Linked DNA regions of Homo sapiens. The protein of the gene in region 1 interacts with the protein of each later gene in a biochemical or structural test. Each region holds a gene or a part of one and is shown on either strand. Other genes may lie near its edges. The genes, in order: DENND5A, SHANK1 and ARHGAP21.

Evidence for each region.
Region 2: the proteins of DENND5A (region 1) and SHANK1 interact in a test that uses a peptide from one of them, tested with the Homo sapiens proteins (one large-scale study listed by IntAct).
Region 3: the proteins of DENND5A (region 1) and ARHGAP21 interact in a test that uses a peptide from one of them, tested with the Homo sapiens proteins (one large-scale study listed by IntAct).

What each region holds. Positions count from the first base shown.
Region 1 is NC_000011.10:9,199,340-9,202,993, reverse strand, and holds part of DENND5A (DENN domain-containing protein 5A), read left to right. Parts: intron 1-3,654.
Region 2 is NC_000019.10:50,713,157-50,716,810, reverse strand, and holds part of SHANK1 (SH3 and multiple ankyrin repeat domains protein 1), read left to right. Parts: coding exon 1-146; intron 147-332; coding exon 333-536; intron 537-1,080; coding exon 1,081-1,152; intron 1,153-2,520; coding exon 2,521-2,629; intron 2,630-2,861; coding exon 2,862-3,013; intron 3,014-3,654. UniProt on the Homo sapiens protein: Seems to be an adapter protein in the postsynaptic density (PSD) of excitatory synapses that interconnects receptors of the postsynaptic membrane including NMDA-type and metabotropic glutamate receptors via complexes with GKAP/PSD-95 and Homer, respectively, and the actin-based cytoskeleton.
Region 3 is NC_000010.11:24,594,736-24,598,389, forward strand, and holds part of ARHGAP21 (rho GTPase-activating protein 21), read right to left. Parts: intron 3,275-3,654; coding exon 3,210-3,274; intron 2,849-3,209; coding exon 2,712-2,848; intron 2,148-2,711; coding exon 2,005-2,147; intron 1,309-2,004; coding exon 1,153-1,308; intron 1,061-1,152; coding exon 982-1,060; intron 456-981; coding exon 382-455; intron 305-381; coding exon 215-304; intron 1-214. UniProt on the Homo sapiens protein: Functions as a GTPase-activating protein (GAP) for RHOA and CDC42. Downstream partner of ARF1 which may control Golgi apparatus structure and function. Also required for CTNNA1 recruitment to adherens junctions.

The DNA.
Region 1 (3,654 bases):
AGTGGGAGAAGAGAGGTGATTAAATAAATATATAAAATATGTAGTTTGTAAGGTACTTAATAAGGGTTATAAAGAAAAATAAAACAGGGAAAGGGATAGTATTTGGGGAAGAGAAGTTCCAGTTTGTAATAGGGTGGTTAGGTAGGCATCCCTGAGTGACCTGTTAATATCTGTAGGAAAAGTATTCCAGGCAAAGGGCACAGGAAGTATAAACGGTCTAAGACAAGAATGTGCTTCGTGTATTCAAGAACCAGAAGCTGGGTGGATGGAATGGAGTGAATGAGCGGGAGTATAGTAGGAGATGGTGTTAGAGACTTAACTGGAGGCCAGATGGTATAGAATCTTGTAGGCCATTGTAAGGACTTTGGCTTTTACTCTTAAATGGCTCTTAGATAGCCATCAGAGTTTTCAATTTTTTTTACTTTTTATTTTAAAATAATTTCTAGCTACGGAAGATTCGCGAGGGGTATTCAAAGGACTCTTGTATAACCTATCCCAAATTCACCAATTGTTAACATTTTGCCACATTTGCTTTATTATGATCTCTGTGTGTGAACATAACTGAACCATTGAGAGTTATTGTGACTCCTAAATTCTCATGTGTTTATTTCCTAAGAATAAAAACATTCTCTTAAATAACTATCATTGATCAAATTTGGAAAACCTAACATTGAGACAATACTATATTAAAGTTTCTCTGGTACCCGATAATGTCTGTTATGATAATTTAAAAAAATTCCTTATTCAGGATCTAGTGCCATATCATGCATTGCTTTTAGTTGTGAGTTTCTCAGCTTTTGTCTTTCATGACATAGACATTTTTGAAGAGTACAAGCAAGTTATTTTATAGACTGTCCCTTAATTTGGTTTTGTCTGATGTTTTCATGATTAGATTCAGATTATAAATTTTTGCCTAAAATACCATAGAAGTGATGTGCTTCTCTCAGTGCATTATATTAGGAGGCACATACTGTCAGTTTTCATGATTACAGGAGGCAGGCATATGATGTCATTTTGTCTCATTTTTGGTGATACTAATCTGCTTACTTGGTTAAGATGGTGTCTGTGGTTTCTTAACTGGAAAGTTATAATTTTTCCCTTGGTAATTAACATGTAAGTCATGGGGAGATACTTTGAAACTAATTATTCTGTTCTTCTTTAAAGTTTTGCCTAACCATTTTTTTTTTAGTTTTTATTTTTTGAATTATATTTGCAGTTTATGGATGCCTAATAGTTTAGCATTTATTGATGATTCTATTCTGAATCAGTTATTTCAAGAATAGTAGCAAAAAGGTGATTTTCTTTTTCTTTTCTTTTTCCTTTTGAGACAGGGTCTCACTCTGCTGCCCAGGTTGGAGTTAAGTGGTGCCTTCATGGCTCACTGCAGCCTCGTCCTCCCATGCTCAAGTGATCCTCCCACCTCAGCTTCCCGTGTAGCTGGAACTACAGGCATGCACCACCATGCTTGGCTAATTTTTTATTTTTTGTAGACATGGGGTCTTGCTACATTGCCCAGGCTGGTCTCAAACTCCTGGGCTGAACCTCCTGCCTGGTTTCCCAAAGTGCTGGGATTACAGGCGCCACTGTGCCCAGCCTTAAAATTTTTTTTTTTTTTTAAAGAAATAGAGTCTTATTCTATCACCCAGGCTAGAGTGTAGTGGCACAATAATGGCTCACTGCAGTCTTGATATCCTGGACTCAAGTGATCTTCCCATCTCAGCCGCCTGAGTAGCTGGGACTACAGGTGCCCACCACCATGCCTGGCTAATTAAAAAAAAATTTTTTTTTTTTGTAGAGCTAGGTTCTTGCTTTATTGCCCAGGCTGGCAGAATAGTGGTTTTCAAACTTTATCTTTATTTATTAATTGGCATTATACCATAATGAAGAGTGTTTCTTTCTCCTTTGTTTATTATTGTATGGATTCATAGATTTTTATTTTACTCAGGTTATAATTCACTATAATTATTTATTTTGATGCTCAAATTTCCCAGATTTGGTCCATGGGCAAAGGAATGGACCTCCACAATGGCAGGGCTTTTGCTTTTTGCTCATTGATGGATTCCAAGCACTAAAACTGTGGCTGGTATATAAGGGTGCTCAATAAATGTTGTTAAATAAATGAATAACTTAGGCTTTTAACAGGATCACTCTGGCCATTATATTAAGAGTATATCCCCAAAGGGAGAATGGAAGAAAGCAAAGAGTTCCGTTAAGAGGTAATTTGTAATAATCCAGGTGAGAGGTGATGTCAGTTAGAACTAAGGAGATAACAGTGAAGTGGTGTGGAATGGTTGGGTTCTGGATATAGTTTGAAGGTGAAGTAATGGAAACTATGTTGAACTGAAGAGCACATACCTCATATAAAGTGGATAGCCGCTAATTAGCTCCAGTTAATTCCTTGTGGGTATACTGGCCTGATGTTACTAAATATTCCAATAATTGATGAGGACCCAGATTTTTTACATGAAATCTCTGATTTTTAAATATTGGCAATAATGTTCTTTTTAAACACTGCAGGCCAAACAAAAAGCATCTGCTGGCTGAATGTAGTTCCTGAGGCTTCACTTTGCAACTTCTAGTTTAAGATACGAAGTTAGAGCCTCCTCTCTCTGGGTGAAATATAGACTTGGACAAATCATATTGCTTTCCTAGCTATTTCTTGGCTGGAGCTTCATAAAAATACTTTGAAATGGAGAATTAGTTGAATAGGGAGGAACTTCTCTGGTTTAGAACAGAACAGAGAGGAGGAAACCAAACTATATAGAGTGTTAGAAGATACAGTAGGCTTTTAGGCATTGGGGGTGTTTAGAGGCAAGGAAAGGATGATTGAAACAAATATGATGAACATAATGGAAAAATAACATTCTTCCATCTGAGTTTCTTTTGTATTTCCTAGAATATGGGTTACTGTATCCATAATAAGAATTTTAGGAGGTTTGAATGTAATTGAGATGGTTAGTATGTAGAATTGAATTTAACTTAGGACCTAAAGTCAGGCTCAGCATGGACAAGAGAAAGCTTTTTTCAGAAATTCCTGGATATTGCTGAGCCTGGCTGAGGCCACAGTGGAGTGGATTACTTTTCATTGGATGTAAATTATGCTTTTTGTTGTTAATAGAGTGCTTTAAACAATTTAGGTTGGTTTTCTTGAAGTAGTTATATTAATGATCCAAGGACATCTTCCTTGTATGGATAAAAATCACTCTGGCCAAAAACAAGCTATCACCACTGCAGTTGATTTTGCCTGCTGCATGTCCTGCCCTCTGAATAGAAAAGAGGTGTTACATAGGGAAAAGGAATGCAGGCTGAATTGTAAGATTCTGAAAGTGTAACCCTTTGGAATGCTGAATTGGCAGTTTTAAGCAGTGTTTTCTTTTTGGTATAGGTCATTTTATTTACTTTTAGATAATATTTATTCTTTAGTCCATATAGAATTAGTGTTTTTTTAATAGCATAATTTTTAATTGGTTGTTAAAAAATTATTGTTACTTTTTTTGAGACAGGGTCTCATTCTGTCACCTATGCTAGAGTGCAGTGGCACAATCATGACTCACTGCAGCCTTGACCTCCCCAGACTCAGATGATCCTCCCACCTCAGCCTCCTGGGTAGCTGGGACTACAGGCATGTACTGCCGAGTCTGGCTAGTTTCTGTA
Region 2 (3,654 bases), on another chromosome or scaffold:
CCCGGGGGACCCGGGGCCAGGGCAGTGGGGCACCTGGTAGCCTGGCCTCTGTTAGAGGCCTCCAGGGCCGCTCAATGTCCGTCCCAGACGACGCCCACTTCAGCATGATGGTCTTCAGGATTGGCATCCCGGACCTGCACCAGACAGTGAGTACCTGCCCACTGGCCAGCGGCAGGAGAGGGACAGTGCCCCAACCGACATGGGGAGTCCACTGGTGCTGGGTATCCTCCCAGGAATCACCCCCACACTCAGCTCCTGGCTCACTTCCCAACCCACCTCAGGCTCTCCTCTGGCCCCTGGCCCACCCTAGCCCCTATCTCTTCCCCAACCAGAAATGCCTTCGCTTCAACCCCGATGCCACCATCTGGACGGCCAAGCAGCAGGTGCTCTGTGCCCTGAGCGAGAGCCTGCAGGATGTGCTCAACTATGGCCTGTTCCAACCGGCCACCTCCGGCCGCGATGCCAACTTCCTGGAGGAGGAGAGGCTGCTGCGGGAGTACCCCCAGTCCTTTGAGAAGGGGGTCCCCTACCTGGAGGTGAAGCTTCCCCAACTCCTTCACTGATAAGAGAAGGCATGCCCTAAAACACATCTGCCCCCCACCCACTTTTTAACACACTCGAAACCTTAACGAGGGGGCACCCAGTGTGCGAGTCCAGACCTTCTAAGCATCACAGGGAAGTCAGAGAGTCCTGAGTTCAAATTACCATCTGTTCTGCTTCTGACCAGCTAAGTGGCCTTGGCCAAGTCACTTTCCTGCCCCAAGCTTCTCCTCACCCATCAAATTGGGGGAGGATTCCCAATTACAGTAGGCACTCTAGAACATTCCCTGTGGGGTCCAGACTCCTCCTCCTTCAAGGCAGGGGTTGCAGTGCACATATACCATAATACCCAGCACTGTCGGAAAAGCCACTGCCACCCATCTACCGCCTAGACCAAGGTTCCAGGGCTGTTTTCACTCCCACCCTGAGCTACCCCGGGGAATTAGAAGGGGATCAGACCTTCCCCTACCCCAAGCCTTCTCCCCAGGCCCCTGATTCCAAGTCTCTGTGTCTCTCTCACTACCCTACCCTTGACCTCAGTTCCGATACAAGACCCGAGTTTACAAACAGACCAACCTGGATGAGAAGCAGCTGGCCAAGTTGCACACGAAGGTGAGAAAACCCTGCTGGCATCTATCCCCTATAGCCCCCTACCACTGGAGCCCCCTACCCAACCACTTTCTCTCCCCACCTCTTCCCAATAGACCTCCACATTCCCCAAGCCAGCGATCCCTCTGGCCACTGCCCCCGCTTAACTTGGGATGCTGTACCACATTTGAGACAACCACAAATACCCCCCATTATCCCCATCACAACCCCTTCTTACTTTCCTCTTTTGCCCTTCATCCCTCTGCCTGGGCCCACATCATTCCCACCTGGCCTCCTTTGAGTCTCCCTTCTCTTCCCCTGCCTCCCCCCATATCCATCCAAGGCCTCTTTACTTCCCCACCTTGGCCTAGGACCCTGACACTGAAGGTCCTTCTGCCTAGAGTCTATTTCAAAGACAGGCTACATTTCTCCCAACCTCATAGCCTGAATCTCTGCAAAATCCAACCATTACACCCCCCTTTCCAGCCATATCTGTCCTCCTGGTACCTTGCCCGCCAGTCCTCAGCCCCTGTCTGTCCTGTGTCTCGATGGTGAGAGCTGGGAGGAAATCGGGAACTGCTTTGGTCAGAAATGAAGAACTCTTGATCCTTGAGAAGGAAAAACTCCCAGTCCCTCCTTGTCTACCCTCTCCCCACCACAGCATGCATTGAACTCTTTCCTCCCCTAAATGTTCCATCCCTCCAGACTTTCACGGTCCACTTTGGGAACCACTGGCCAAGTGTGGCTCCTGAGTGCTTGCAGTGTGTTTGGTCCCAACTAAGACTCGCTGTGAGTGTGAAATACACACTGGGTTTCAAAGACTTAGTACCAAAAAAAAGTTAAATAACCTCATTAATAATTTTCATCTCAATTACCTGTTGAAACAGTAACATTGTAGCTATATCAGTTAAATAACATATATCATTAACACGAATTTCAACACAACTAACACTTCACCCCCAACCACCCTGATTTTTTTTTTTTTTTTTTTTGAGACGGGGTCTTGCTCTGTCACCCGGGCTGCAGTGGTGCAATCATGGCTCACTGCAGCCTCAACCTTTCAGGGTTCAAAGGATCCTTCCAGCTCAGCCTCCCGAGTAGCTGGGACTACAGGCGTGTGCCACCACAACCTGGCTAGTTTTTTGCATTTTTTGTAGAGATAAGGGTCTCACTTTGTTGCTCAGGCTGGTCTCGAACCCCTGGGCCCAAGTGATCCTCCCGCCTCGGCCTCCCAAAGGGCTGGGTATTTTCTCTGTAAAGGAGGCTGCTAGAAGCTTTTCAATGGCGTATGTGACTCCACGTATATTTTCACTGGACGTCGCTGCTTGAGGACCCTGCTTCTCTGCCTTGCTCCTGACTGTCCTGTCTTCTCTCTCTTTGCCCATGGCTCAGACGGGGTTGAAGAAGTTCCTGGAGTATGTGCAGCTCGGGACATCTGACAAGGTGGCGCGGCTGCTGGACAAGGGGCTGGACCCCAATTACCATGACTCGGATTCGGGAGGTAGGGAGGGGTGCGCATCAGGAGGACCTCAGGGCCAGGACAGAGCTGGGGAGCAGGGGTGCCATCTGCATTCACATCCATTCCTGACTGGTGTCTCCCAAACACATTGCTGTCCAAGGGGGAGGCCACGGGGCCAGAGGCTGTGGGGTGGAGAGCTGCAGAGCCTGGAAAATGGGAAGGGATGGAGGGGAGGAGAAGGGGCTTCATGTGACCAGCTTTTCCCGCCCTTCAGAGACCCCCTTGACACTGGCGGCCCAGACCGAAGGCTCTGTAGAGGTGATTCGAACCCTGTGCCTGGGCGGGGCCCACATTGACTTCCGGGCCCGGGATGGCATGACCGCACTGCATAAGGCCGCATGCGCCCGACACTGCCTGGCACTCACGGTGAGGCTTCGGGGACCCCCCATCCCCGCCATGGGGCCCTCTCTCCTTTTCCCTTTGTTCTTTCTCAAACCTCAGTTCTTTGGTTTCAGTTAAAAATAGGCCCTCTCATGTCCCCAGTTCAAAGCCCCTTTCCATAGACTGAGACACAGCCCCTATTGTCACCCTTGTCAGGCCCCCCAGATGCACCCACCTGGGCTATAGCTGACATCACACAGACCCGGGCACGGCCTCCTCCCCTAAACACCCAGAACGTCTCCATCCCCTGTGGCCCAGCTTAATACCAAATCTGCCTCTGTCTCCCCAAGGTGTAAACCCTTCTCATTCCTTAAAATACGAAGTGAGCTCCCTGCTATGCCCCCAGATAGAGCCCCTCCACACACACCCTGAAAACAGCCCCCCAGCTACCCTTCCAAACCAGCACTGCACCAGCTCCCCTCCCTCCTCTCTCACATGCAAATACAGCCCCTTCCCCACGTACACAGCCTCAAATGCACTTTCCCAAATAGACAAACCCATACACCCACAAAATACATACACAGCGGCAGCTGCACAGTCTAATTTTAAAATACTCTTCTCCCCCTGCCCCCGCCAGGACACCTGATTGCTCTTCACATGAGGGTCAGGATGGGCTGCCCCCAAAG
Region 3 (3,654 bases), on another chromosome or scaffold:
ATAACCATAAAAGAAATCTTTTAAAATATCCTTTTAAAATGGTGACAACTGGTATTTTGGGATCTTTTGCTTTTAAAAACAATTTTAAGAAGGACTTACCCAGTTTGATGTTGAATTACAAACCTTTTATTGACTATTTGGCATGAAGTAATGAAGCATATCTTTTAAACTAAAGCCACTAAAAGTACATTTCTTCAATAAGCATTTTACATACCTTATTTTTTTCTGAATTTTCTGCCACTGTCTTCAGATGAGCTGAAAGGAACTTAAGTGTTTCATAATGATGTTCAGGCAAATCGTGAATCTGAAACAGATTATTTTCACAATGGATTCAGAGGCTGAATTTTAGTTGTATCCCCCAAAATATAAAATAATACCTACTAGTCTTTTTAATGTTTTCAGACGATCTAGAGGATCTTCTTTACGATTGGCTTCAATAAAATCAGCATATTTATCTGACGACAAGAACAATAAAACAAATTTATCTTAAATTGCCTAGGTGAATTGTAATCTAGTTTCCCTTTAAGGATCAATTTTAAACCACAACATAGGAAAGAGTTCTAATAGTTTTGAAATGTAAATTTCTAAAATGTAAGTTCCCTGCAGGAACCATCCTATATTTACACAGCCTGTCCATTCCTCCCCCACCCTCCAACAACATCTAGTAAAGTGTCTTACATGGCACTTAAATACTTGGCTTGACTGAAAAAACATTTTTCTACTCATTGTACCTTATGATGTCAGAAGCCATTTGACTGGAAACAATAATATTAATTTGGCTGCAAACATGTATGAACAAGATAATACATATTTCACTGAACCTAAATAACTTTTATGTTTTTAATATATGAGGGAGAACTAAATAAAGCCTCCTGCTTCCTTTGACCAAGACATTTTGTCCTTGTTCAATTTAATATTCTATGGTTTTCCAATTGTAACTTGAACCATTTCATCTGGTATCTTTCACGGGAGTTAACTCACCATTTGTGAAGAGAGGCTCAGGGAGTTTTCTGAAGAAGGATTTTAGTAAACTGCTTATCACATTCAAATCTCGCCATTTCTAGGTGTACAAAATAGAAATATAGTATTTTCATATCCAGTTCCACCAAAGGGGGAAAAAAAAGGATCAGTTATTCAAATAAGCAAACTTACATCATCTTGTATATCAATATCAGCCATTCCCTTGTTGAGTTCTTCTTGCATACTTGAGATGGCTGCATTATTTCCAGGAACTCTATAAATACCTGTATATTCAAGACCTCTTTCTTCAACTAATTTGCAACATATGTCAACTATTAATGGAATATACTGCAAAACAAGAAATAAACATTTTATTTAATGCAGCACAAATGTTTAGTAGTTGTATATCACAGCTAAAATGCCCCTTTCATCCAAAAGGAAACATAAATTGCTGTTATGTAATATAAAGAATACAGACATTATAGATCTGGGAATAGATAAAACCTGCAAGAGATATTTGAGACAGTAAGAAGAGAACAAAGAGACTGAAAGAAAGAGAGGGACCCCCAGAGAGATAACATTCTAAAAAGGAAGTAACAACAGGTAAAGAGAATGTGGAAACCGTTCCGCTGAATAAAGAGTCAAGAAAAGAGGAGGAGAGAGTAATATCAATTCATGATACGAATCCTAGCATGGGTGTTTTAAATATATGCACATACATTTACATGTATTATACTTTCTTAATCAGGTCCTTGTTCTCATCCTTGTTTTAAAATGCTAAAAGCAGAAACACACGATTTGAAGACGAATTCTTACAGACCATTTCAGACAAATTCCTAATGGTTGAATAATTATTCAATTTCGGAGTCAATACATTAGAAAAAAAGCATTACAGGTCAGAAATACTTAGGGAAACTAAGGTCTGCTATGAAAAGGAAAACAGATTGACAGTCTCTGTTGTCTGAAAGGCTATATACTCAGATCCCATTATAATCAAAACTGAATTAATGACTTGAGGAAATCCGGTGGGCTGGTGTCTCCTACCCGATTAGTATGAGCTGGTGGGCAGTCATCTAGTCGGACGCCGAAAGTTCCTGTAGCAGTTGGCTTTTTCTCAAATGTCTTTCTCATGATACTTGGAATGCCTTTTCTCCATGTGCCTTTGTCTTTTGGGGGACTGGTATCATCTTTTGATTGCCAGTCAAAATAAAACAACATAATAAAATGGAAATGAGTGTCTAAATCATGACTTTAAAAACACTTTATCAATGTTTACATAAATCCAAGTCCTGTAATATAAATAATACATCCTATATTTAACAAAAATATGTTCTCTTCCATATAACTTTTACTTCATTCTTTTATAATGCGTGCTATAATTTTCTTTAAAACAGCAAAAAAAAAAACTACATAGAATCAGTGTGTCATCTTTATAGTGAGACTTCAACAAAGGGAAAAGTAATAGTTTTATTTCAAAATGATAGGACCTGAATCCTCGGAGTCATTTAAATTTGTAATGTCTCTGATTTAAGTATTGTTTGTATTTTCCCTCACTTTCGCTTTATAATGAAGCTGGTGTCTTGGGCCTCACAAAGGGAAAGGCCCAATGAGCCCAGACCAAGCCTACTATGAATTTTGAGCTAGTTGACATGGGGCCTGGTCAGTAGAAATGGTACAGAAAACATAAACGTACCTCAACGATGCCAATTTTAAATCATTATATTTATTTGTTAGAAAGCTAACATCAATACCTTTACTGAGAAGTTTCCTTTCCGACTCTTCCTTCGGAGAGTGTGGGCTTTGAGTCTTTGGCTCTGATTTAGCACCAAGCAAAGTTTGCCTGATGCTGAGACTCTGGCGAGGTGTTTTTGGCAACTGTTCTGCTTTGCTGTTGAAGGAAATGACATTTGTTAACAATTACAGTAATCCCCCTCTATCTATGGTTTCAGTTACCCGTGGTGAGCCATGGTCTGAAAATATTAACTGGAAAATTCTTGGAATAAACAATTCATAAGCTTTCAATTTTGTAGTCCTGCCCAGAATAAGAATCATCCTTTCATCCCGAGTAGCCACACTGTATACACTACCCGCCCATTACTATATGGGAAAAAATATAGCGTAGAGAGGATTTGGTACTATCTGCGGTTTCAAGCATCCACTGGGGGTCTTGGAATGTATCCTTGCAAATAAGGGGGATGACTGTACTGATTTTATATCCAAATTAACTGCAGGCAAGGTGGGATTCTCACCTCATCAGATTGTTGTATTCTTTTATTCTTCGACTAATTAGATCCCTGTTAGTGACTCCAGTGTCCTACAGAATAAAGTAAAATTAGAAAATCAATTCTAAACATAAATAAGTGATCCTTACTTTTTTGAGGCTTTCTATTGTACTGCTTTGCTTATTTAACACAAACACTACTATCATCTGTTCTCAGTGGAGCTGTTTCAAAGCTTCTATTCAACATCACTGTGTGAAAGATTTTCCAAGTGCCTCCCAACATTGCCAAAGGGTTTTGCTTCTTTTCTGTATCCATGCGATACCTAGGATAGTACCAGCAAGTAACATGTGTTCAATACTTATTGAATTGATCCGTCCATTTAAAATAAATGACTAGGAAGCAGCCAGTGTTTTCTCTAATACCAGAAAGAATGATCAGCATTTAAGAAATATACGTGTAAGTGATTTTTCTT